Homo sapiens: one gene and its partners. The protein of the gene in region 1 purifies or fractionates together with the protein of each later gene. This does not show direct contact. Each region holds a gene or a part of one and is shown in the gene's direction. Other genes may lie near its edges. The genes, in order: ARHGEF6, NT5DC3, ARHGEF9, ARHGAP44, RBM38, SLAIN2 and ABLIM1.

What was found.
Region 2: the proteins of ARHGEF6 (region 1) and NT5DC3 purify together in Homo sapiens (affinity purification with mass spectrometry; one large-scale study listed by BioGRID and IntAct). This does not show direct contact.
Region 3: the proteins of ARHGEF6 (region 1) and ARHGEF9 purify together in Homo sapiens (affinity purification with mass spectrometry; one large-scale study listed by BioGRID and IntAct). This does not show direct contact.
Region 4: the proteins of ARHGEF6 (region 1) and ARHGAP44 purify together in Homo sapiens (affinity purification with mass spectrometry; one large-scale study listed by BioGRID and IntAct). This does not show direct contact.
Region 5: the proteins of ARHGEF6 (region 1) and RBM38 purify together in Homo sapiens (affinity purification with mass spectrometry; one large-scale study listed by BioGRID and IntAct). This does not show direct contact.
Region 6: the proteins of ARHGEF6 (region 1) and SLAIN2 purify together in Homo sapiens (affinity purification with mass spectrometry; one large-scale study listed by BioGRID and IntAct). This does not show direct contact.
Region 7: the proteins of ARHGEF6 (region 1) and ABLIM1 purify together in Homo sapiens (affinity purification with mass spectrometry, with the first as the bait; one large-scale study listed by BioGRID). This does not show direct contact.

The regions. Positions count from the first base shown.
Region 1 is NC_000023.11:136,770,933-136,774,432, reverse strand, and holds part of ARHGEF6 (rho guanine nucleotide exchange factor 6), read left to right. Parts: intron 1-3,500. UniProt on the Homo sapiens protein: Acts as a RAC1 guanine nucleotide exchange factor (GEF).
Region 2 is NC_000012.12:103,782,235-103,785,734, reverse strand, and holds part of NT5DC3 (5'-nucleotidase domain-containing protein 3), read left to right. Parts: coding exon of another isoform or gene 1-59; exon of another isoform or gene 60-127; intron 128-259; coding exon 260-400; intron 401-3,500.
Region 3 is NC_000023.11:63,635,215-63,638,714, reverse strand, and holds part of ARHGEF9 (rho guanine nucleotide exchange factor 9), read left to right. Parts: intron 1-505; coding exon 506-687; 3' UTR 688-3,500. UniProt on the Homo sapiens protein: Acts as a guanine nucleotide exchange factor (GEF) for CDC42. Promotes formation of GPHN clusters.
Region 4 is NC_000017.11:12,792,498-12,795,997, forward strand, and holds part of ARHGAP44 (rho GTPase-activating protein 44), read left to right. Parts: intron 1-3,500. UniProt on the Homo sapiens protein: GTPase-activating protein (GAP) that stimulates the GTPase activity of Rho-type GTPases. Thereby, controls Rho-type GTPases cycling between their active GTP-bound and inactive GDP-bound states. Acts as a GAP at least for CDC42 and RAC1.
Region 5 is NC_000020.11:57,401,396-57,404,895, forward strand, and holds part of RBM38 (RNA-binding protein 38), read left to right. Parts: intron 1-3,500. UniProt on the Homo sapiens protein: RNA-binding protein that specifically bind the 3'-UTR of CDKN1A transcripts, leading to maintain the stability of CDKN1A transcripts, thereby acting as a mediator of the p53/TP53 family to regulate CDKN1A.
Region 6 is NC_000004.12:48,414,529-48,418,028, forward strand, and holds part of SLAIN2 (SLAIN motif-containing protein 2), read left to right. Parts: intron 1-3,500.
Region 7 is NC_000010.11:114,441,776-114,445,275, reverse strand, and holds part of ABLIM1 (actin-binding LIM protein 1), read left to right. Parts: intron 1-1,141; coding exon 1,142-1,247; intron 1,248-3,489; coding exon 3,490-3,500. UniProt on the Homo sapiens protein: May act as scaffold protein. May play a role in the development of the retina. Has been suggested to play a role in axon guidance.

The DNA.
Region 1 (3,500 bases):
GTGATCTGCCCACCTTGGCATCCCAAAATGCTGGGATTACAGGCATGAGCCACCACGCCTGGCCAATACTATGGTATTTTTTTTTTTCAAATAAAAACATGGTGAAGTTGCCAATGATTTCTGCATTCTAAAGCTGCCAGAAGGTTTACTTAGCTTCTTTGCAGTTCTAAGAATACTGGATGATACAGAAACACCTTCCAGGTTAGGCATTGTTCAGGATTTTTCTGATAACTAATGCTTACTCCTTTAAGCACCAATGCTTAAAATATTCTTCCACTTTGGATAGAAATATTTATTGTTTAAAAAAATTATGTTTATTACTTTTATTTTTTTATGGGACACTTCACAAATTTTTGTGTTATTCTCGTACAGGGGCCATATGAATATTCTCTGTATCGTTCCAATTTTAGTATATGGGCTGCTGAAGTGAGCACAAGATAGAAATATTTCTAAAATGTATGTCTTAATTTTCTCTCTTCTTAAATAAAAGGCACTGGAAACACTTTTATCTCTTTTTGGTAATTCATGCTGACCTGGGCATTATATGAATATTGTAATGAGGCAATATCTGACATCGTGGTTAAGCACATGCCTTCTCTAGTTTGGCAGACCTAGATTAGAATCTTGGCTTGGTCAATTACTGGCTGCATAACTCTGGGACAGTTACTTGACCTCTCTATGCTCCTTTTTCCTCATCTGTATAATGGAGACATTAATAGTATCTGCTGTATATGATTGTTTTAAGGATCAAATGAGATAATACATCCAAGGCACTTAATATAGCACTGCACATAAGGCATACACAATAGCTGTTTTCTGTGGTGTTATTACTCGGTAATGTTCTCTGCATTGTTGTGTGCAAAATTATTCTTGTAAGGTATATATAGGAGCCATATTGAGGCACTCCTAGAACCCAGAAAGAAGACTAATAAAATCAATACATAAGGAATGAGACCGAAAGCTGAGCTGGGGAGCACGAAGCAGCCAAGAAGACTCATCATCTTGTCTGAAGCTTCCAGGTAGCTGGAAGACAGACTTAAACATAAATATTTGCAAATGTCCCTGGATAGAGTCTCTCTCGGGCCCAAAGTGCCTGGCACAGTGCCTGGCATAGGACATACCTAATAGATTTTTGTTGACCCTATAAAACTGTAGATGTACAAAAAGCAAGAAGAGCAGGGCTTGACTGTTGCTTAGAACACAATATTATTTATCTAAAGAAAGCATACCGGCTTGAAATTGTCAGCTTGGAAATGCAGAAAAATGGAGCCGCAGATGCAGCACCGTACCGACAAATTGAGTACTGGGCTCTGGGGCATGGTGACGACATTAAAAAAGCTGTTGCCTTCTGGTCCTCTGGGTGGCCAGTCGGCTTCTCCAAGTAACCCCCATCTGTGTGTTCTCATATGGCTACAATGTCTTAGGGTCTTTAGAGGATCACACATTTAGTAACTGATCAGGAAAGTCTGCTGAGACATCTGGGAACAAAGTGCTCTCGGAAGCACCCCACCACCTTCTTGATAGTGTCCTTTGTAACACAATTTTTTTTGTTGTTGTTGTCTGTTTGTTTGAGACGGAGTCTTGCTCTGTCTCCCAGGCTGGAGTGCAGTGGCACAATCTTGGCTCACGGCAACTTTGGCCTCTTGGGTTCAAGTGATTCTCATGCCTCAGCCTCCCAAGTAGCTGGGATTACAGGTGCCTGCCACTATGCCTGGCTAATTTTTGTATTTTTAAGTAGAGACGGGGTTTTGCCATATTGTCCAGCCTCTCCTGGCCTCAAGTGATCCACCTGCCTCAGCCTCCCAAAAGGCTGGGATTACAGGCGTAAGCCACTGTGCCTGGCCCACAAAAATTTATTAATTAGACATTTTTGTTTTTTACTTTCAATTTTTGTGGGTACATAGCAGGTGTATATATTTGTGGGGTACATGAAATGTTGTGATACAGGCATGCAATGTGTAATAATCCCATCATGGAGAGTGGGGTATCCATACCCTCAAGCATTTATCCTTTGTGTTACAAACAATTCAATTACACTCTTTAAGTTATTTTAATAAGTACAATTATTATTGACTATAGTCACCCTGTTGTGCTATCAAATGGGCCTTATTCATTCTTTCAATTTTTTTTGTACCCATTAACCATTCCTGCCTCCTTCCCCAATATACTTCTCAGCCTCTGGTAACCTGTCTTCTACTCTCTATGCCCATTAGTTCAATTGTTTTTATTTTTAGATCCCACAAATAAGTGAGGACATGTGATGTTTGTCTTTCTGTACCTGGCTTATTTCACTTAACATAATGATCTCTAGTTCCATCCATGTTGTTGCAAATGACTGATTCTCATTCTTCTTTATGGCTGAATAGTACTCCATTGTGTATACATACCACATTTTCTTTATCCATTCATTTGTTGGTGGACAGTTAGGTTGCTTCCAAATCTTAGCTATTTGTGAACAGTACTGCAACAAACATAGGAGCGCCGTTATCTCTTCCATATACTGATTTCCTTTCTTTTGGGTAACATACCCAGCAGTGGGATTGCTGGATCATATGGTAGCTCAATTTTCAGTTTTTCGAGGCACCTCCAAACTGTCCATAATGGTTGTATTAATTTACGTTCCCACCAGCAGTGTATGAGGGTTCCCTTTTCTCCACATCCTCTCCAGCATTTGTTATTGCCTGTCCAAAAGTTTTTAATTTTGATGAAGTCAAATTCATCTCTTTTGTTGCTTGTGCTTTTGGTGTCATATCTAAGAAACTCATAATCAAATGTCTTGAAGAATTTTTTTCCTGTTTTCTCCTAAGAATAATATAGTTTTACTTCTTACATTAAGGTCTTTGATCTATTTTGAGTTAATTTTTGTATATGGTAGGAGGTACGGGTCCAAATTCATTCTTTTGCATATGCACATCCAGTTGTTTCAGTAACATTTGTTGAAAAGACAACATTAGCCAATTCCTCCATTGAACTGATTAATGTAGCTACGTAGTAAGTTTTAAAAGCGGGTCCTTCAACTTTGTTCTTCATTTTCAAAATCACTTTGGCCATTCTGGATCCCTCGCATGTCCATATGAATTTTAGGATCAGCTTGTCAATTTCTACAAAAAAGGCCAGCTGAGATTTTGATAGTGATTGTGTTCAATCTATAGATTGCTTTGGAGAGTGTTGCCATCTTAATAATATTAAATGTTTGAATCCATGAACATGGGATGTATTTCCACTTATTTGTCTTATGGGATGTATTTCCACTTATTTGTCTTTAGTTTCATTCAGCAATATTATGTACTTTTCAGTGTACATGTCTTATACCTGCTTGGTTCAATTTATTCCAAAGGATTTTATTATTTTTGGTGTTATAAAAAAATAGGATTGTTTTCTTGATTTGGTATTTAAATTGTTCACTGCAAGTGTATAGAAATATAATTATTTTTTTGAGACAAGGTCTTACTCTGTTGCCCAGGCTGGAGTGCAGTGGTGTGATTACAGCTCACTGCAGT
Region 2 (3,500 bases), on another chromosome or scaffold:
ATTCCAGACCTAGTGTTTCTGCAGGGGTTGTGACTCACGGCAATTATTTCCAGAACTGAAACTTTCTTGGAATGAAATGATCAAAGGCTGGGGCCAAATAGGTTTTAATTAAATGTAATTCATTGAATTCAGCTTGGTGAATAACTAACCATTACCATCAAAAAGTAATTAAATGAATGCCTCTCATGTCTGGGAAAATAATGACATAGTTTAGATTCTGTTGAGACTGACGTTGACTTTTCGTGATCTTTGTGATCAGGATTTGACCCTAAAGCATGGCTGGAGGACTGGTGCAATCATCCCAGAGTTGAGATCTGAGCTCAAAATCATGAACACGGAGCAATACATTCAAACCATGACCTGGCTGCAGACCTTGACTGGCTTATTGGAACAGATGCAGGTTTGGATATATTATTTTTCTCTCTCACTTTTTCTTTAAGCCTGAGGTTAGAAAGTTACTTCAGGTATTTTCTGCTTAATTGTTATAAAATATGAGGCTTAAGTTGTTTTCAGTAGACTGTAGAATAACGATTGGGGTTCTTTTGCCTAGACAGTGTTTGTGGGGCCTTTGTTAATGCAGGTGTTTGCTCACATTCCTCTGTCAGTGAAGATCCAGTGTCCTCACTTCCACACTGAAGCCTGCTAGGAGCTCTCCTGTGGGATGCTGGGATTCAGGAAGCCCTGCCAGTGCTTGAGTCTGTGCTGGTTCTGTCTGCACCTGCTACGGTGGGACTTCTCCATTCTGGGCCTCAGTTTCCCCATCTGTGAAATAAAGGGGCCGCTGGAACGAAAACTTCAGTCTAGGCACCATGGCTTACTGGAAAGAGTCTCAAAGCAAGAGTCAAGATCCCTGGGTCCAGCCTCAGTTGATTCTGAGGATAATACCTGCAGTTTGCTGGCTTACTGGAGTTCCCTGGCAGTTACTTCCTTAAGTTAAGTTAGGCAGCCAGTTTTGGCTGGTAAGTGAGGAATGGCAGTTTTATCAGTCGTTTCCTGGCCCATGGAAGCTGCCTCTCTTTTGTAGCTGTATCCCCTTAATTCTCCATGTGCCCCTTTCCTTTCCAGTTCCATGAGGCACCTTGCTTTCTCCCTGGCTCCAGCTTGCCTGGGCTACAGCCGTCTCAGCATGGGTGCTGACATTTTTAGGATCTGGGCACAGGTGCTTGCTCTCTTGGCTAACACACCTGCAACCTGTGGCCACAGCCTATTGCCCATGCCTGCCCTCTGGCTTTGGAAATGGGCAGGGAATTGCCTTGCCTGCCCCAGCTGGCACTCTGCTTGGGAGTGGCTGAGCAGTGAGATCAGGCAGGGCCATGAGTGGCAGGCCAGATTCTGGCTCCAGGTGCATGCATTCCAGAGCATGGGGCCCTGCACGTCCCCCTGGGCCTTGTTTCCAGGATGCACTGGGCTCCATTAGTTCTTGGCTCTTCTCTGATGAGAATCCTCTGATGAGGATTTATTCTGTTTCCCTCGCTATGCTTGTCTGTGAGATGATTTACTAAAAATATACAGTGTCAATTCTGAGTTAGTGTAGTTTAGAGTCTGTGCATGTCATACACTACTAATAGTTACTTTTTATGTGCTGGACACTGTGCTGAGTGCTGGCTCTATACACTTTGCTCATTTAATAGTCACAGCTGTCCCTTGCAGGTAGGTACAATTTTCCCATTTTAGAATAAGGAAACAGTTTTTGAGAGGTTAGGTATCATTCATGTCTGAGGTCATAAAATGGCAGGGCAGGGCTTGAACCAAGTCCCCAAGTCCATGCTTCAGAGCACTGCTCTAATGTGCCTTCCTGTTTAGAGGATTCGGGTATAGGCAAGGCTTGACTCACCCTCAGTGAAATCTCTGTGACCCTGGCAGCTGGTCATAGGTACAAACACAACTGCACGTAGATGGTATCAGTATATTTTAGCTTTGGAAAGAGGTTTTTTTTTTTTTTGGTTTTATTTTGTTTTCCTTTTTCTGACCTGTGTAAAAAGTTGACTACTAAGGAATGTGTGTTTTAGAGAATGGAAGTGCTGAAAATATTTCTGTGGTTTGTAAAATTAATTATATGAGGTGTGGGGTAAGGGAAGGAAGAAAAGGGAGTTGAGGTTTACATAGCTGCCCCCATTTTGCAGGAGAGAAAACTGAGACAGCGAGATAGGTGACTTTTCTAGAATCACAGTTCTCGGTTGGCAGAATCAGGCTATGTAGAAATGTCGTAAGAACTTACCGTGTTCTGGACACTGAGACCTTTAAGTTCATTTCATCTTCACAGAAACTCTTTGAAGTAGTTCTGAAACATCACTGCCATTTTACTGATGAAGACCCTGAGGCGCAGAGGAGATATAACTTGCTCTAGTGAGGGGTGATGCTGGTGTTTACACACAGGCCGACCGACTCTAGACCCTTAACCTCTGTGCACCTATATTGATTGCCTTGGGTTCTGGCACTTTGTACAGAGTTCTGTCAGGTTGGATTCACTAGGATATAGAGGTGTATAGCTGCTAACTAAAAAAACATCCAAATCAGTGTCCTATCTCACTGTCACCCTCTTCCTCAGTGTTCCCTTAGAAAGTTATAAGTTATTCCACTGAGCCTGTGGTAGATGTTTCTAGAACTCCCCCTTGGGGATTATTTTCAGAGCATGTAGCACATTATTTGGACAGTTTTCTGAGGAGAAAAATTGGTCCTCTGAGATTGGGTTTGATTTTTTCAGAGCCAGTAGAGTGTCATTTTTTTGTTTGTTTGTTTGTTTGTTTTTGAGATGGAGTCTTGCTCTGTCGCCCAGGCTGGAGTGCAGTGGCGCGATCTTGGCTCACTGCAGCCTTCACCTCCCAGGTTCAAGCAGTTCTCCTCTCTCAGCCTCCCAAGTAGCTGGGACTACAGGCTTGTGCCACCACGCCCAGCTAATTTTGTATTTTTAGTAGAGATGGGGTTTCACCATGTTAGCCAGGCTGGTCTCAAACTCCTGACCTCACAGAGTGTCATTTGGAGCCGAGTCTCATGAATGAAATAGAAGTATATAAATTTTGGTTGTAATTTCATTAGTTAGCCTTGAAGTGCATTCCAAAATGGCTGTGGTTCATGGTGGTGGTGCTGGCATTGGTAGCCGCTTCTCAGGTAACCAACCAGTCAGAGGCCACATTTAGACCACAGGTCAGCAAGCTTCTGCAAAGGGCCACATGGTAAATATTTTAGGCTGTGCAGGCTGTAGGCTCTGTTGCAGCTACCCACCTCTGCACTTGTAGCACAAAAGCAGCCGTGGACAGTATGTGAATGAATGGTTGTAGCTGTGTCCCAATAAACTTTATTGGTGGACACTGAAATTTGACTTTCATGTAATTTTTACATGTTAGGAAATTCTTCTCTTTTTTTTCTTTTGAGGCAGTCTCACTCTGTTGCCCAGGCTGGAGTGCAGTGGCATGATCTCAGCTCACTGCAGCCTCTGCCTCCCAGGCTCAAGTGATTCTCATGCCTACCCTCCTGAGTAGCTAGGATTACAGGTGTGCACC
Region 3 (3,500 bases), about 73 Mb from region 1:
AAACCTGTCCTGAAGTCAATAGTTCTTAACCAGGCTCTTTTAAAACTTCCAGGGGGGACTGGAGAAGGCGAAATAGAGTTTGTTGGGTTCTTTGCAGGACCAACCCCTGCATAAGGGATTCTGGTGTCTTGGAAAGAGCTCTGAACTGAGTAGTCAAAGAATGTAGGTTCTAACCCTTGCTTTGTCGCTAACTTACCATGTGACCTTGGGTATAACATTTCTTTTCAGATATCAGTGTTCTCACCTGTAAAACAGATTATAGCAATACCCCAAATTTCTTTGATACCTGACTAGATGTGGAAGTGTGTAGGGTTGCAATAGTAGCCATGGTATTCCAAAATCTGTTTGAAAGAGGAATTCTCCCCTTGGATGATTTGTAAAACCAGTTCACACTCTCTAAACCAGTCTGCCTTGAGTTGTCTGCCCAGAGTGGTCACTGGGTAATTTGAGAAGCCCTTTGTTACATAACTTATACCCTTTCCCTTTGATCTCTCATCTACTCTAGGTGTCAACTCTGCCCGCTCAGTTCCTCCTTCCTACCCACCACCGCAGGACCCGTTAAACCACGGCCAGTACCTGGTCCCCGACGGCATCGCTCAGTCGCAGGTCTTTGAGTTCACCGAACCCAAGCGCAGCCAGTCACCATTCTGGCAAAACTTCAGCAGGTTAACCCCCTTCAAAAAATGATACCTACAGGGAGGCAGATAATTTTAAAATAAAGTAAATAAAATTATATTTATAGATGGACCTTTTTTCGGAGAAGCACTGTTGAAATTTATACACACACACACACACAGAGACCCTTGAGTACACATACACACACACACACACAGACACACACACACACACACACACACACACACACACAGAGAGATAAGGAACAAAAGTGTTTTCTGTTGTTTTGGGGAAGTGAAATATGTGGTTGGTAGGAAGAGGTACCAATGACTTCCAAACATGTGATTCCGTCTTAAAAGTTTTCCATTTTTACCCTGTCCCCCTTCCCTTTGCTTTCAGAAGTTGACATTTCTATTCATTGCTTTTCTTGTTAAGATAATCTCTTTACTCCCCTGTGAGTGATTCACTGCCTTGTCATTATTACGATAGATGTGTTTGTATTGTTTTTTTTCTGATGATACTGATGTTGATGAATTTTTAATTTTATTTGATGTGGTAGAGTTGGGAGGTTTCAGGGTTTTTTCCCCTCTTTTACTTTCCATTGAGGAAGGGAATGAGCTCCTTTCTCCTCTCCTTCAGCCAATCATTATCAAATGTTCCTTCAGCCCTGCAGTTGCCCCAAATAACCTTTTTTCAGCATCCTCTGTCCTCAGTCATGCCAGTCTGGACATGCTCTGTTGTGCCCTGTGACAAAACTGCTCAGTATTCCTATTGCTTTTACTGTGTTTTAGGTACTGTGAAGGGATCAAAAAACCAAACAGAAGCAAGGGAGTATCAGACTATGATGATGCTGGAGTGGACTTCTGTTCAGGGAACATTTTGCATTCAGGCTGTTTCTTCTATCACTGGGGTTTCCCATGTTGCAGCACTTCTGGGTCGTTGCAATTTTGCATCTAGGAGTTAGTTTGATCGAGTTATTCTCTTTTTTCAAGTCACTTTTGTTATAGGTCTCCCCCTAGGCCTGTCTCTCCCTTAGCCCAAAAGATCTGAACTGGAAGCAGAGGTTGAGATTCTGCCTCCCAGGAGAGGGATTTACCTGCCCCCTAGTACCAGATAGGTTTAGGGCAGTGATCTCTACAGCAATCAGTTCAGTGTCCTGGTTGTCCCTGCTCCCATTTACAGATGTTTGGGCAGCATTGATAGAAGTATGGAGGGGTTCAAGACAGAGCCCACCTGATCAAGATCATCAGCTACCTTCAAATTATTGACCTGGACAGGGTCCAAGTCTGATAGTAACCTTTTACAAGAAAGAACAGGGATGGGAATGGAAAGAGATAGCCTTGATCCACAGTATTGTACCTGCATTTTCTACCACCCTAAAATTGTGTGAGACTTCTCCCATTGTTAACAGATTGCATGGACAATCTTCCCTGGCTTCTTTCTTTCCCTCTCTCTTTCTTCTTTCTCCTGCCATCCTAGCACAGGAGGATTTTTGGTATTGATATAGTTAAAGCTGTTCTGGCACTCAAAGAAGGCCGTGTTTCCAACATCCTCTCATCCCAGGACATTTGGGGCAAGTGAGTTAGGGGCCCAGGGGCAATTTTCCCTCTGAATAACGTGTCTGAGGCAGGGATGCTACCCTCAGGCTCGCTTTTGGCCAGCTTTTTGCTTGGGAAAATCTAACTTCTTTCACAAGGAGGCAGGCTTCCTATGGATGTTGGAGTACCTGTTTTTCCTCCACACATAGCCCTTTTCATGGATAGACCTTGAACAACAAAAAGGGTATAAGGGAATAAGGATGAACTCTGCTGTGAAGAGCAAGCCACTGTAGTGAGGAATGTGGAGACTGGGAGTCTGTCCTAAACCCCATGGGAGAAGACTTCATCATGACAGGACTTCAGCTTACCAAGCAGCAGCCATAGCTGTGTGGAGGCTTCAGCATAGCTAGCATGTTTACTGCTCTATGCCTCCTGATCCAGACCAGGCATTGCCCAGCCTGGGAATCTTTTCTTTGTGGGAATCAAATTACAAGCTATTTAAGTTTATATTCCATCACAACCAAGTCAGACTTGTATTATAAGTCAAGGATGAGCCTGATCTGGGGAGAGGGCCGGGGCTCGGGACTGGCCACCACTGTTCAGCACATGACCTAACTACGTAAGCCTCTTTGGCAAGGGTCCTGGTGCCCAGCACCCAGGCTAAAATATCCTGTCTGGCAGAGTGTTTTGGTAGCTATGCAGGCCTCCCTTCAGTGTACCTCTTTTTCCAACTTCTCACTCCTCCTTACTAGGCTTGGCCTTGACATGCTTCTTCGAGGGTTGGCAGCACACCGGGAGGGGATGCTTGGACAAGTTTCTGGGCCTACATTTCTTGACTAGGCCCTCTCATTTCCTCCCTCCTTGGGGCTTCTGCCCAGGGCTCCAGGATCAGGGATATTACTTCTCAACCCGCACTTCTCCTCTACTGAACCCACTGGCATCACCTGATGCCACTAATTTGTGAACAACAAGAAATCATTTCCCCATTGGTTGGAGTATTCCCTCAGCCTATAGCATCAAAGCAGACCAGTGGCCAACAGCCCCAAGGGGAGCCCAATTAAATACCTGGGTTCAGTATCCTAACCTGTTATGTCCTGACAGCAATGGTAACCCCAGTAATTCTGTAATGTTGTAATTTCCGCATGGCCCTGAGCTCCCTTTTCCTCAACTCAGTGAGGCCAGGATTTGCTCTCCAAAAGGCTTTGCTAGTGTGTTCAATGGGACCTGCTGTGGGGAGTCCTAAGACAGACATCTAATTATTCTCTCTTTTTCCCCCCCTCTCTATGTGTATATTTCTAATGGATCTATAAGAACAGCAACAAGAGAGTTCTAACAATTCTAGTGTGA
Region 4 (3,500 bases), on another chromosome or scaffold:
TCTCCTCTATTATTGAGAATGTTTTGGGTCATGATCCTATGAGTATTGGAGTAAAAGAGCCCGCGGTTGCCTGTTAATTTCTTAAATCAGTAGAAGCACATAGGATTGGAATTTGGACTTTAGGTGTGCAGTTATAAAGCACTTGATTTTTATCCTTATATTTTTCTAAAGTTTTCCTCTTTCCGAGGGAGGACTAAGAGGACTTGAAAGTCCTTCCTCATGGCTCGCCTTCCCTAAGTTGCAGGTTCTGGAGTTCTGAATATAAAACTTAAAGTCATTTTAACAATGTAGGAGTTGCCCTACTTAAACATACTCTGCTGGGTTACTAGTACTTTCTCTCGAAGTGCTCACATCCAAGTCATATTAAGGGCGTCAGCGACTATGAAAAGATTTGATAAAACCCATTGTATTTAACTGACAAAAGTTTCAGCCCCTCCTTGGTCTGTTTCCTTAGTCTGCACGTGTTCCTTCTGCTTTGAACTTTCCCCTTTCTGTCCCTTCACTTCAATCCGTCCTTTGGGAAGCACTCCCTGGCCACTGTGTGCCTCATGGTTAGGAGCACAGGCTTTCCACTGGGACAGGTTTAGTTTGTTGCTGACTATGGAATCCAGAGCTTAATTCTCTGCACATTAATTTTCTTACTTGCAAAATGGGAGTAGTTAAGGATTGCACTGTGGTAATGTGGTAACCACAGTGATAACATAGATAACCTGTGAAAAGTACCTAGCAGTGCTCAGCACTAGGAAATGCTTAATAAATGGTAGCTACAAGTATCTCTGGGCAAATGTTATGACTGTTATTGAATTATATGCACTATGGCATATGTACCTTTATTAGATGTCTACTGTGTCCCAGACACTGCTCTGGTTCAGGGAGTATTGCAGTACAGGGCAAACAAAATTCCTGTTTGCCTGGAACCTGCATTCTAGGCCGGGCGTGGTGGCTCACGCCTGTAGTCCCAGCACTTTGGGAGGCCAAGGAGGGTGGATCACCTGAGGTCAGGAGTTCGAGACCAGCCTGGCCAACATGGCGAAACCCCGTCTCTACTAAAAATACAAAAATTAGCTGGGCATGGTGGCGGGCGCCTGTAATCCCAGCTACTGGGGAGTCTGAGGCGGGAGAATCGCTTGAACCCGGGAGGTGGAGGTTGCAGTGAGCCAAGCTTGCACCACTGTACTCCAGCCTGGGCGACAGAGTGAGACTCCATCTCACACAAAAAAAAAAAAAGGAACCTGCATTCTAAAAGCATGCTATGGTAATAATGGCTCACTTGTGTTATAATTTTTATCTTTTGTCATTTACTTTCCCCACTAGACTTTAAACTCTTTGGAGGCAGGGACAGCTGCCCTAACGCTGCCCTGTATAGAAGGTCCTCTGTCATTCTTTGGCAATGGAATGAGTAAGTGAACAAAAGATCCATGCGCTATAGATAGGGGAGTCTTTTGAAGTAGTTCAAAGATGGGGAAAGCTCCTGATACCATGTTTCTTTAACGTTGTGATGGTGGTCAGAGGAGAGAGGAACAGCTGCACTTCTGGGCATTGGAAGGGCAGAGCAAGATTTACGGGAGAATTTGGTTCTTGCCTGATTGATGGCAGCATTTTTCTTTTTACCTTCAAGAGAGTCTAGCAGTTGCTGGAGTGAGAAGCATACCGAAAGGCATAGAGTATTTTTCTTGGAAGTGACATTTGCTTGATGTTGGGTGGAGCAAAGCCCTGAGCTAAAATTTGGCACCCACGAGACCCACTAAGATAAAGCAAATGGAAGAAGTAATGGTACCTTGATTTGGTGGGGAGGACTTTTTTTTCCAGTCTGCACAGTGGGTTCACAGCGGCCCCATCCTCAGAGGGCTGTCATGAGGTTGGAGGGAGCCTGGTCCACTGAAGTCCTCAACAAATGGTTGAGGTGGTTCGTTGTCACTGAACACCCATTCAAGTCTTCCAAAAATAATGTTGGCCTCCTAAGTAGAAAAGGATTCTTAGAAACGATTTCAACAGCTACTGCCCAGTGATGGTCCAAGTGGGGCTTGTCCTCTTGTTTAAAATGAGTGATGTTCAAAGTGTCTGGGAGTAGGTGAGGAACTGTGGGTGTGCGGGAAGGAGAAGGCTGGTTGGGTCGGGTTGAATTGTGTGGATTTAGAGGCTATGAGTTGGGGAGTGAAGACAAAGTTTTGTCTCTGGAGCCTTGTTTTCTATTCCTTGACTGCTTTGCATACATTGCAAAGCAGGCTTGGTTTCTGGTGCACAGCTTTGCAGGTATCATTGCTGCTGTGCAGCTCTTGGAATTCAGCTGCAGAGGCCTAGGCATTAGCCAGTGGTGGGGAGCCTGGGAACTGGAGGCTGAGGCTGCAGCAGCCTCTAGGAGCACTGGTGCTGCAGACATTTTTGTCTGGGCCAAAGCTGCCAAAGTCAGTGAGGATCTTTTCCTTGAAGGTATCTCTGAGACATTGCCCTGCCTTGTAGTAGGCCTTCTAAGAGCCGTGACCCAATCAATAGGACATTAGAGGAAAATCAGAACCAATTCCAAATTTGGCTTTGGACTGCTTTGTTCCTTCCCTTCTATTTCCCTTACTGTGAGTTAGACCTGCCAGACCAACACAGGCCCTGCCATGGGCTTCCTGTTAGCCCAGCAGGGCTGGGCGGACCCAAACTCGTCCCCCAAAGAGCGCTGTGCACATTGAATGGGTCTCAGAGCAAAGTTTTTCATTAGAGTTTTATGGAAGCCCAGGCCTTACTGCCTGTTCTGCTGTATATATGTGAGAGATAACAGAGTGTACTAACCCACCGATTACTGGGTTAGCAAATCTGGAGAGAATATTCTTTGCTCTTATCTTCTAAGATCCTCACTGTGTGGGTCTGCTGGGTTTCACCTTCTGCTGAGCTGCTGTCAGCAGTCAGCCTGAAGCTGTCTAGATTTCCTGCAGAATTCTGTTATCCCAGACCTGCAAGTCATCGTGAGGAAGCCATGCTCTTAAATAGCAATTAATCATTTTCCTTCCCAGTTTGTCTCCATCAAAGTAATTTATCAATGATTTTTTTTTTTTAATGATGGGCAATAAGGACCATTTTTTTTTTCTCTAGAGAAAGTGGATCAGTAGCCATACAAATATACTGGTAATTTATGGTCATTCCTTTTAGAGGGGATTAGTAAGTATCCCTTTTATTAATAATCAAAAGCAGTTTATTTCAAATGCTATTTGATAAAGACAGCAAATAATAAAATTATGCTACATCTGTGTGGATGTAGTTGTAGGTCAGGCAGGAGGTTGGGGGGAGAGTCAGAGAGTCAGGCCTCTTCCCTCGGGCGTGGGGCATCCAATTGAGCTGGCACCTGGAACTCCACCGCCTTTGGGAAGCTTGTGGCTGTCTAGCAATTTCAAACTCTTCTTTCTGTCCAGGAAGCAGATGTTTTGCTTTCATTTTCCAACTTTAGAGCTTATTTTTAGAATAAATGTTTATTTTCCCACAGAATTCAATTTACTTTTTTTAACCTTCATTTTGGT
Region 5 (3,500 bases), on another chromosome or scaffold:
AGCCTGCCCAGCCCTGGCTGCTCAAGGCTGAACTGCTTTCTCTGCCTTCTTGGGGCAGGGACTCTTGGCCTGGGAAGCAGAGGCCATTCCACGGGGGGGCTCTTTTGCCTCCCAGCTACCTGCAAAGCCGGGGCCTGCCTCAGATGCTCAGCACTGGGCACCTGCTGTGCTGGGGCACTTGGGACGCAGCAGCTGAGACCCTGCTCTTGTGGGGAAGACATTGTGCAAGGTAGATGATGAAGGGGCTTCCGATCATAAGGAAACAGAGCCGCCTGGGTGGACCCCTGAGGGGTGAGCTTTGAGCTGTGGGAAGAAGCAAGTGCATAGGTGCGAAGGTCCTGTGGTGGGAAGGAGTCGAATCTGGGAACAGAAGGAGCCCAGGGCAGTGGGAGTGTGGCCAGGGAGGGCGCAGTGCAAGTGGAGATGAGTTAGAAGAGGTAGGTTGAGGCCTAATAACGCAGGAAGCCACAAGGGAGCAGTTTGGGTTTTCTTCTGGGTACAGTGGGAGGCAGCTGGAGGGTTCTGCTTCTGGAGGTGATGGGGTGTTGATGTTTTCGTTTGTTTGTTTTTTGAAACGGAGTCTCGCTCTGTCTCCAGGCTGGAGTGCAGTATCTTGATCTCAGCTCACTGCAGCCTCCGCCTCCCGGGTTCAAGCCATTCTCCTGCCTCGGCCTCCTGAGTAGCTGGGATTACAGGCACGCACCACCACGCCCAGCTATTTTTGTATTTTTAGTAGAGATGGGGTTTCACCGTGTTGGCCAGGATGGTCTCAATCTCCTGACCTCATGATCCGCCCGCCTCGGCCTCCCTAAGTGCTGGGATTCCAGGCGTGGGTCTTGATGTTTTTAAGACAGCTCCAACTGCTGCTGGGTGAAGGATTCAGGGATGGAGGCAGGTCTCCACCACCACCAAGGCAGGGCCACGCCACTGCGCCCGCCTGGAGAGTCGGTGATGAAGGAGAGGGAGGATCGGAGAATTGAGGGATGGAAGCAGGGAGCTCCCTGTTGGATGGTGTGGGCATAGGCTGCAGTGGGGGTGAGTGGGCAGGGCAGTGCCTGGGTGGCCTGGTGGGCTCTTCACTGAGGTGGAGAGTGCAGGAGAGTCCCACCAGGGCCAGGCAGACACGTGCCCTGGCAGGCGAGCCTGTGCAGGGGACACACTTGGTGGGTGGGGCGGCGTGCAGCTACCAGGCTGTGCCCTTGTGTGCAGAGGCTGTGGCACCTGAGCTTTCTGAGCATGGCGTGTGAGTGGGGATGCTGAGGAACCTGCCTGGTGCGTGCACCCGCTCCCCATTGCCAGGCAGTGAAGCCTTGGGCCTGCGGCCGGGGCGGGGCCGCCCTTGGACAGTGCAGGGCCGGTGGTTTGGCTGCATTTTTCTTTCTCACCTGACCACTCAGTGGGTTCGCCCATGCGTGCGTGGCTGCATGAGCCCCTCTGTCTCTCTTTGCTCCCACCTGCCTTCTTTGTGGCCGCCCGGCGTGGGCACCTGTGGTCAGAGCAGCAGTGAGGATCCCTTGTCTTTGCCCTTCCCCTTCCCCATGTGGTTTCTGATGGTCCACAGTCGGGCGTCTCAGCCTTGGCACTGCGGACCTTTAGGACGGCATCGTTCTTTGTTGTGGGGGCACCCTGAGCATTGTAGGAAGCGGTCAGCACCCCTGGCCTCGACCCCTAATGTCAGCAGCACCCCCACCCGCACCTCATATTCCTAGTTGTCAGTTGTGACAACTAGGACCGTCCCTAGGCATTTTCCAGTGTCCCCTGGGGGCACAGTTGTCCTGGTTGGGAATCGCTGTTCTAGTGGCACCTCTAGGCCTCACAGCAAGCTTTTGAGGTCAGCCTCTGTAGGACCCAACTTACAGATGAGGAAACTGCGCCTTGGAAGTTTTGAAACCTGTTTGGTAACTCAGACAAGTGCAGGGGCGAGGCGCAACCCTAGGAGGGAGAGAAGCTGCTGGAACCCAGCTCCTGCCTGGCGGGGCTTCGTGGCTGCTTCTACCTTAACTTCAGCCGGTGTTCTCACTCCCCCTTGGGGCTTGAGGTGTGGCCCGTGCTGTGCCTTCCTTTTATTTTGAGCTGAACCTGGGGCCCCAGCCAGTCCTTGCAGGCACAGCTACCAGCAGCAGGCCCCACTGTACCAGTCCCTTGCTCTGCGATGGGGCAAGTCGCTTGGGGCCTCTCTGAACCTCGGATTTCCTCTCTGGGAGATGGGCTAACACTAGCATCTTTTCTATGGCTTTTTTTTTTGAGACAGAGTTTTGCTCTTTCGCCCAGGCTGGAGTGCAGTGGCATGATCTCAGCTCACCACAACCTCCACCTTCTGGTTTCAAGCGATTCTCCTGCCTCAGCCTCCCGAGTAACTGGGATTACAGGCTCCCGCCACCACACCTGGCTAATTTTTGTATTTTTAGTAGAAATAGGGCTTCGCCATGTTGGCTAGGCTGGTCCTGAACTCTTGACCTCATGATCTGCCCGCCCCAGCCTTCCAAAGTGCTGGGATTACAGGCGTGAGCCACTGCGCCCAGCCTTCCGTGGCTTTGAAAATGCTTCGTAAGTTATCCCAGGCCCTTTACGTACAGAAAGATGAGTAGATACCGACATGCAGTGTCTGCAAGGGTCAGGAAACAGGAGAGCCCCGCCTTCCTCCCCAGCCTAAACATTGCTCACCCACGCTTGTGTTTGAGTGTCCCTGAGTAGGGCAGCTCCTTGGTGGCCAAGGCAGCGCTCTGGCCCCGATGATGTGGGGCATCAGAACCCGATAGAAATGACGCAGCCCTCGAGGTGAGTGTGGCCGGAACCCAGCTGCCCCACAGCCCCAGGCACTTGTGTTCTGTGTCCCTGGTCTGGGCAGCGGTTCTTGAATGCAGCTGTGGATCAGGACCCCGGGGCCTGTTCTTGCACATTCCTGGGCCCCATCTGCCTTTGCAGTCTGCATGGGATCCACATTTTTAGCAAAACCTTGCGGGGAGATGTCTGAGGCAGGGGCATCACTGCCCATGTTTGGAGAAGGTGTGTGGGTTCAAAGCTTCCATAGCCTCCTACTAAGGAATGTTTTCGAGGTTCTGAGAGCTGGGTCGGGGGGGCACTGATGATGCCAGGGACAGCCTGCTGGGCACAGCCCCAAGACAGTCCTTGCTGTGTCTCCACTCGCCCCCTTCCCAAGGGAGGCCTCCGAGACCCTTCTGGGGCCCCCTGCCTCCGCTGGCCAGAGCTCCTCATCCTTCTCAGTGGGGTCTGTGCCACCCACCGGGCCTTTGTTCCGTCAGCACCATGTGCCCAGTGCCTCCTACAGGCCTGGTCCTGGCAGAGAGCTGGGAGTCCAGACAGAGCCATCTCCCTGACAGAACGCCATCCAGTGGGGCATCGGGCAGCGTAGCGAGGTGAGGGGCTGGCCTCCATGTGGGGTTGGGCCTCGCCAGGTTAAGGGCTCCAGGCAGAGGCATTGGCAGGTGCCAGGCCCAGGTGGGGAGGATGCGAGGGATTGAGGCGCTGTGGGGCATGGG
Region 6 (3,500 bases), on another chromosome or scaffold:
AAGCAATGCAATTGGTGTGGTATTTTTTTTTTTTTTTTTTTTATTATACTCTAAGTTTTAGGGTACATGTGCACATTGTGCAGGTTAGTTACATATGTATACATGTGCCATGCTGGTGCGCTGCACCCACTAATGTGTCATCTAGCATTAGGTATATCTCCCAATGCTATCCCTCCCCCCTCCCCCGACCCCACCACAGTCCCCAGAGTGTGATATTCCCCTTCCTGTGTCCATGTGATCTCATTGTTCAATTCCCACCTATGAGTGAGAATATGCGGTGTTTGGTTTTTTGTTCTTGCGATAGTTTACTGAGAATGATGGTTTCCAATTTCATCCATGTCCCTACAAAGGATATGAACTCATCATTTTTTATGGCTGCATAGTATTCCATGGTGTATATGTGCCACATTTTCTTAATCCAGTCTATCATTGTTGGACATTTGGGTTGGTTCCAAGTCTTTGCTATTGTGAATAGTGCCGCAATAAACATACGTGTGCATGTGTCTTTATAGCAGCATGATTTATAGTCCTTTGGGTATATACCCAGTAATGGGATGGCTGGGTCAAATGGTATTTCTAGTTCTAGATCCCTGAGGAATCGCCACACTGACTTCCACAATGGTTGAACTAGTTTACAGTCCCACCAACAGTGTAAAAGTGTTCCTATTTCTCCACATCCTCTCCAGCACCTGTTGTTTCCTGACTTTTTAATGATAGCCATTCTAACTGGTGTGAGATGATATCTCATAGTGGTTTTGATTTGCATTTCTCTGATGGCCAGTGATGATGAGCATTTCTTCATGTGTTTTTTGGCTGCATAAATGTCTTCTTTTGAGAAGTGTCTGTTCATATCCTTCACCCACTTTTTGATGGGGTTGTTTGTTTTTTTCTTGTAAATTTGTTTGAGTTCATTGTAGATTCTGGATATTAGCCCTTTGTCAGATGAGTAGGTTGCGAAAATTTTCTCCCATGTTGTAGGTTGCCTGTTCACTCTGATGGTAGTTTCTTTTGCTGTGCAGAAGCTCTTTAGTTTCATTAGATCCCATTTGTCAATTTTGGCTTTTGTTGCCATTGCTTTTGGTGTTTTGGACATGAAGTCCTTGCCCACGCCTGTGTCCTGAATGGTAATGCCTAGGTTTTCTTCTAGGGTTTTTATGGTTTTAGGTCTAACGTTTAAATCTTTAATCCATCTTGAATTGATTTTTGTATAAGGTGTAAGGAAGGGATCCAGTTTCAGCTTTCTACATATGGCTAGCCAGTTTTCCCAGCACCATTTATTAAATAGGGAATCCTTTCCCCATTGCTTGTTTTTCTCAGGTTTGTCAAAGATCAGATAGTTGTAGATATGCGGCATTATTTCTGAGGGCTCTGTTCTGTTCCATTGATCTATATCTCTGTTTTGGTACCAGTAGCATGCTGTTTTGGTTACTGTAGCCTTGTAGTATAGTTTGAAGTCAGGTAGTGTGATGCCTCCAGCTTTGTTCTTTTGGCTTAGGATTGACTTGGCGATGCGGGCTCTTTTTTGGTTCCATATGAACTTTAAGGTAGTTTTTTCCAATTCTGTGAAGAAAGTCATTGGTAGCTTGATGGGGATGGCATTGAATCTGTAAATTACCTTGGGCAGTATGGCCATTTTCACGATATTGATTCTTCCTACCCATGAGCATGGAATGTTCTTCCATTTGTTTGTGTCCTCTTTTATTTCCTTGAGCAGTGGTTTGTAGTTCTCCTTGAAGAGGTCCTTCACATCCCTTGTAAGTTGGATTCCTAGGTATTTTATTCTCTTTGAAGCAATTGTGAATGGGAGTTCACCCATGATTTGGCTCTCTGTTTGTCTGTTGTTGGTGTATAAGAATGCTTGTGATTTTTGTACATTGATTTTGTATCCTGAGACTTTGCTGAAGTTGCTTATCAGCTTAAGGAGATTTTGGGCTGAGACGATGGGGTTTTCTAGATAAACAATCATGTCGTCTGCAAACAGGGACAATTTGACTTCCTCTTTTCCTAATTGAATACCCTTTATTTCCTTCTCCTGCCTGATTGCCCTGGCCAGAACTTCCAACACTATGTTGAATAGGAGCGGTGAGAGAGGGCATCCCTGTCTTGTGCCAGTTTTCAAACTATCTCTCAGACCACAGTGCAATCAAACTAGAACTCAGGATTAAAAATCTCACTCAAAGCCGCTCAACTACATGGAAACTGAACAACCTGCTCCTGAATGACTACTGGGTACATAACGAAATGAAGGCAGAAATAAAGATGTTCTTTGAAACCAACGAGAACAAAGACACCACATACCAGAATCTCTGGGACGCATTCAAAGCAGTGTGTAGAGGGAAATTTATAGCACTAAATGCCTACAAGAGAAAGCAGGAAAGATCCAAAATTGACACCCTAACATCACAATTAAAAGAACTAGAAAAGCAAGAGCAAACACATTCAAAAGCTAGCAGAAGGCAAGAAATAACTAAAATCAGAGCAGAACTGAAGGAAATAGAGACACAAAAAACCCTTCAAAAAATCAATGAATCCAGGAGCTGGTTTTTTGAAAGGATCAACAAAATTGATAGACCGCTAGCAAGACTAATAAAAAAAGAGAGAAGAATCAAATAGACACAATAAAAAATGATAAAGGGGATATCACCACCGATCCCACAGAAATACAAACTACCATCAGAGAATACTACAAACACCTCTACGCAAATAAACTAGAAAATCTAGAAGAAATGGATAAATTCCTCGACACATACACTCTCCCAAGACTAAACCAGGAAGAAGTTGAATCTCTGAATAGACCAATAACAGGCTCTGAAATTGTGGCAATAATCAATAGTTTACCAACCAAAAAGAGTCCAGGACCAGATGGATTCACAGCCGAATTCTACCAGAGGTACAAGGAGGAACTGGTACCATTCCTTCTGAAACTATTCCAATCAATAGAAAAAGAGGGAATCCTCCCTAACTGATTTTATGAGGCCAGCATCATTCTGATACCAAAGCCGGGCAGAGACACAACCAAAAAAGAGAATTTTAGACCAATATCCTTGATGAACATTGATGCAAAAATCCTCAATAAAATACTGGCAAACCGAATCCAGCAGCACATCAAAAAGCTTACCCACCATGATCAAGTGGGCTTCATCCCTGGGATGCAAGGCTGGTTCAATATACGCAAATCAATAAATGTAATCCAGCATATAAACAGAGCCAAAGACAAAAACCACATGATTATCTCAATAGATGCAGAAAAAGCCTTTGACAAAATTCAACAACCCTTCATGCTAAAAACTCTCAATAAATTAGGTATTGATGGGATGTATTTCAAAATAATAAGAGCTATCTATGGTGTGGTATTTTTAATCTTGATTTCTAATGTTCGTTGCTGGCATATAGAAACATAGTCAGTGTTTGTATTTTTATCCAGTTCTGTGACCTTACTGAATTCACTTATTATTTCTAGAAGTGTGTGTGTGTGTAGATTCATTGGGATTTTCTGTGTA
Region 7 (3,500 bases), on another chromosome or scaffold:
CTAGTTACATAAGATCTATATTTTTTGAATGACTACTATGTATAAACCATCTAGATAGGCAAGAGGTGGTCCCAGTCTTCAAGGGGCTTGAAATCTGGCAGGCAAGGCAAGACAGGTGTCTGTTAATAGTAACTAGAATATGGCAGAATACCTGCTGGGCTCTAGAGGAGATGGCATTGGTGCTGGAGGTCAGAGGGGTGTGGAAGGTTTGGGTTGTTGTGGGAAGGAAAGAGAGACCACATGGGGGCATGTGTGCAGTGCATGTGTTGAAAGGCTGCTGGAGGGCCAGGCAGAGCAAGGTGGTATCCACCCAGGTAGTGCCACACCTTCCTTCCCTCATGCAGTTCTGCTGAAGGAATGACTGTGGGATTGAACATTTCTCCAAGTCTTTTCCCAGGATGTGGGCCAGGAGAAAAGGAATGAAAGGAATGGCCACCATGAAGGGGTCCTCTTCATACCCTCCTTCCTGTAGCAAGGGCCTGCAGCAGCCCAGAAGGACAGTCTGTTATCAGTCAAGAGGCTGCTGAATCCTTTCAAATGATGTTTTCTAAGCATATAGGAAATGCACGTGATATTAGTCAAAGGATACAAAGTTGCATTTATAGTATGATCTCAGTTTTATATGTGTGTATACAAAAATACTAGATAGATATAAATCAAAAGATAGTGTTATTTCTGAGTGACATATTATGGGTTACTCTTCTTTTCTTCTAGATTTTCCAAAATCTGTAAAATTAGCATGTATTACCTTTATTTCTTGTTTTTAAACAAATCAAGGCAATTTCTTTTTAAAGGATACCAGCCCCAGTCTTCCCTTCCCACATCAAAAATCCACACACACTCACACATGCCTTCTGAGGTCTCCTGGCTCTTTAGGGAAAGCAGAGGAAGGAAAACGTTCTTCTAACACAGAGCCTGACTTAGGGAAATGGAGCTTTGAAACTGAAAGGGCTAAGAGGGTTTAGGGTCCCAAACTTGACCTACCTCTTCAGGAACTACCAGGCTCTGGGGCCACATGCATTCAGGCCCTCCAGCAAGAGAAACTTCTTGTGGGATCTGCTACAAAGAAACTGCAGCTCCATGAAAGTAATTGCAAGCTTTGCTTTCTTTTTTTTTTTTTTTTCCTTTTTTCTGTGAATAGCTTAACTCAGGCCTGGGACAGTTGATCTTGAAAGAAGAGATGGAGAAAGAGAGCCGGGAAAGGTCATCTCTGTTAGCCAGTCGCTACGATTCTCCCATCAACTCAGGTAAGCAGCAAACCCCCAACCTTCCCTGATTCGAGAGCCAGCCACCTGCTTGTAAGGCACCTGCCTTGACTGTTCACTTGTGGTGGAACCTACAGAGTATTCCACGGGAAAGGAAGTGTGGGAAACCCACTCCATGTCAAATGAGCTCATAAGCATGTCATGGGTCTTCCATAAATGTGTGTTTCCTTTCTTCTGGAAATGGGTGAACCCTTGGAGGTTCTCAAAATCCATGAAGGCCAATCCCCATATACTAGGTTTGTCTTCTAGAACACTCATCTCCAAGGGAAGCAGCAAAAGGAAATCCTCTAAAAAACATGATGCTTTTCTTCTTCTTCTTTTTTTTTTTTTTTTTTTTTAGATAACATGAATAAGACATTTTCTAAGCATTATGATTTTACATTAATATCTTCAATAGAGGCCGGGTGCGGTGGCTCATGCCTGTAATCCCAGCACTTTGGGAGGCCAAGGCAGGCGGATCACCTGAGGTCAGGAGTTTGAGACCAGCCTGGTCAACGTGGCGAAACCCCATCTATACTAAAAATACAGACATTAGCCAGGCGTGGTGGTGGGCTCCTGTAATCCCAGCTACTCGGGAGGCTGAGGCAGGAGAATCACTTGAACCTGGGAGGTGGAGGTTGCAGTGAGCTGAGATCACACCATTGCACTCCAGCCTGGGCGACAAGAGTGAAACTCCATCTCAAAAAAAAAAAGAAAAAAAATCTTCAATACAAGAACTGAGGATGAACAGTGTTTTTGATACTTTTGAAGAAGATGACTTATACACTGGGCTGAAATAGCCTATCAGTGTATTTTCCCCTGTATCTATTTGTCATAAGCCAATTCTCTCTTAAACCACAAGATTTCTTCTCTCATATTCTGAGCTAGAGCATAATTTTCTCCTCTAAGAGTTCCTTTAAAAATGCATTTAGTGGGGAGACCAAGGCGGGCAGATCACAAGGTCAGGAGATCGAGACCATCCTGGCTAACACAGTGAAACCCCGTCTCTACTAAAAAATACAAAAATCAGCCAGGTGTGGTGGCGGGCTCCTGCAGTCCCGGCTACTCGGGAGGCTGAGGCAGGAGAATGGCGTGAACCCAGAAAGCTGAGCTTACATTGAGCCAAGATTGCGCCACTGCACTCCAGCCTGGGTGAGAGTGAGACTCTGTCTCAAAAAAAAAAAATGCATTTAATGTTCACTCCATGCAAGCATTTTTGCTAAACATTTTATTTAATGTTCACAACATGCCAGTGAAGTAGATGTGGTTGTTATTAGCAACTGCAGCATTTTCATCTCTATTTTAGAAATCAGGAGGCTGGTATAGAAATTGAGTTAACATACCCAGCGTGATACGCCAATAACTAGCAAGACTAGGATTTAGAAGTCCACATATTATAACCCCGGAGCCCACACCCTTACCTGGAATTCCCGCTACCCTTCATAGATGCCTCACTGGCATTGATCTTGGATTCGGTGGTTTACAAATCTTTAGAGTTCCTTGGAATTCTGAGATTCTGCTCTATAAGAATGTATAACATTGTACCTGCATAGATGAAGAAATGAGGACTTCAGAAAGATTAAACACCATGTCCGGAGATACAGAGGTATTAAGTTGCAGAACCAGAATTCAAGCCCAGGGCTGCTCCCTCTCAAGCCCAGCAGCTTATCAGGCTTCCATATCATTGACAGATACCCTGTATCAGGCCTCCCAGGAGGCCAGCTGTAGATGGCTGGTAGATCTTGATAACATACAGGGTTGGCTTCCAGTTCAGTTACTGCTGCCTTATCAACTGGGGCATGGGCTAATGTATTCAGATATCCCTGATTTACATCCTTGCTCAGCTGTTTAGAAGCTTAGTAACTGTTGGCAGGATATTTTTCTTAGCCCCTATTTCTCCTTCTGTAATATGGAACTAATAATCATAGTGTTATTAGGGTTATATTGAAGATTCAAAGAAATAAAGCATGCTGAACACTTAGCTCCATGCCAGAGCTATAGGAAGCACAGCCAGCTTCAGCCCCCACTCAACCGCGTGGACTTGACTTTCCCTTCCCTCCTCAGTCATATCACTGTCCACCCACTCCTTGCAAATATGATGGCATATTTTTGAACATTTGAGCCCAATATGATTTGAATTTTTTTGGTATTTCTATCCTGTGAGGTAGAAGATACTGCCAATTTCATTAAAGGATTGGACCTTCTGATTTCCTAACAATTGGTTTTTTACTTTTTTCTTACTCAGCTTCACATATT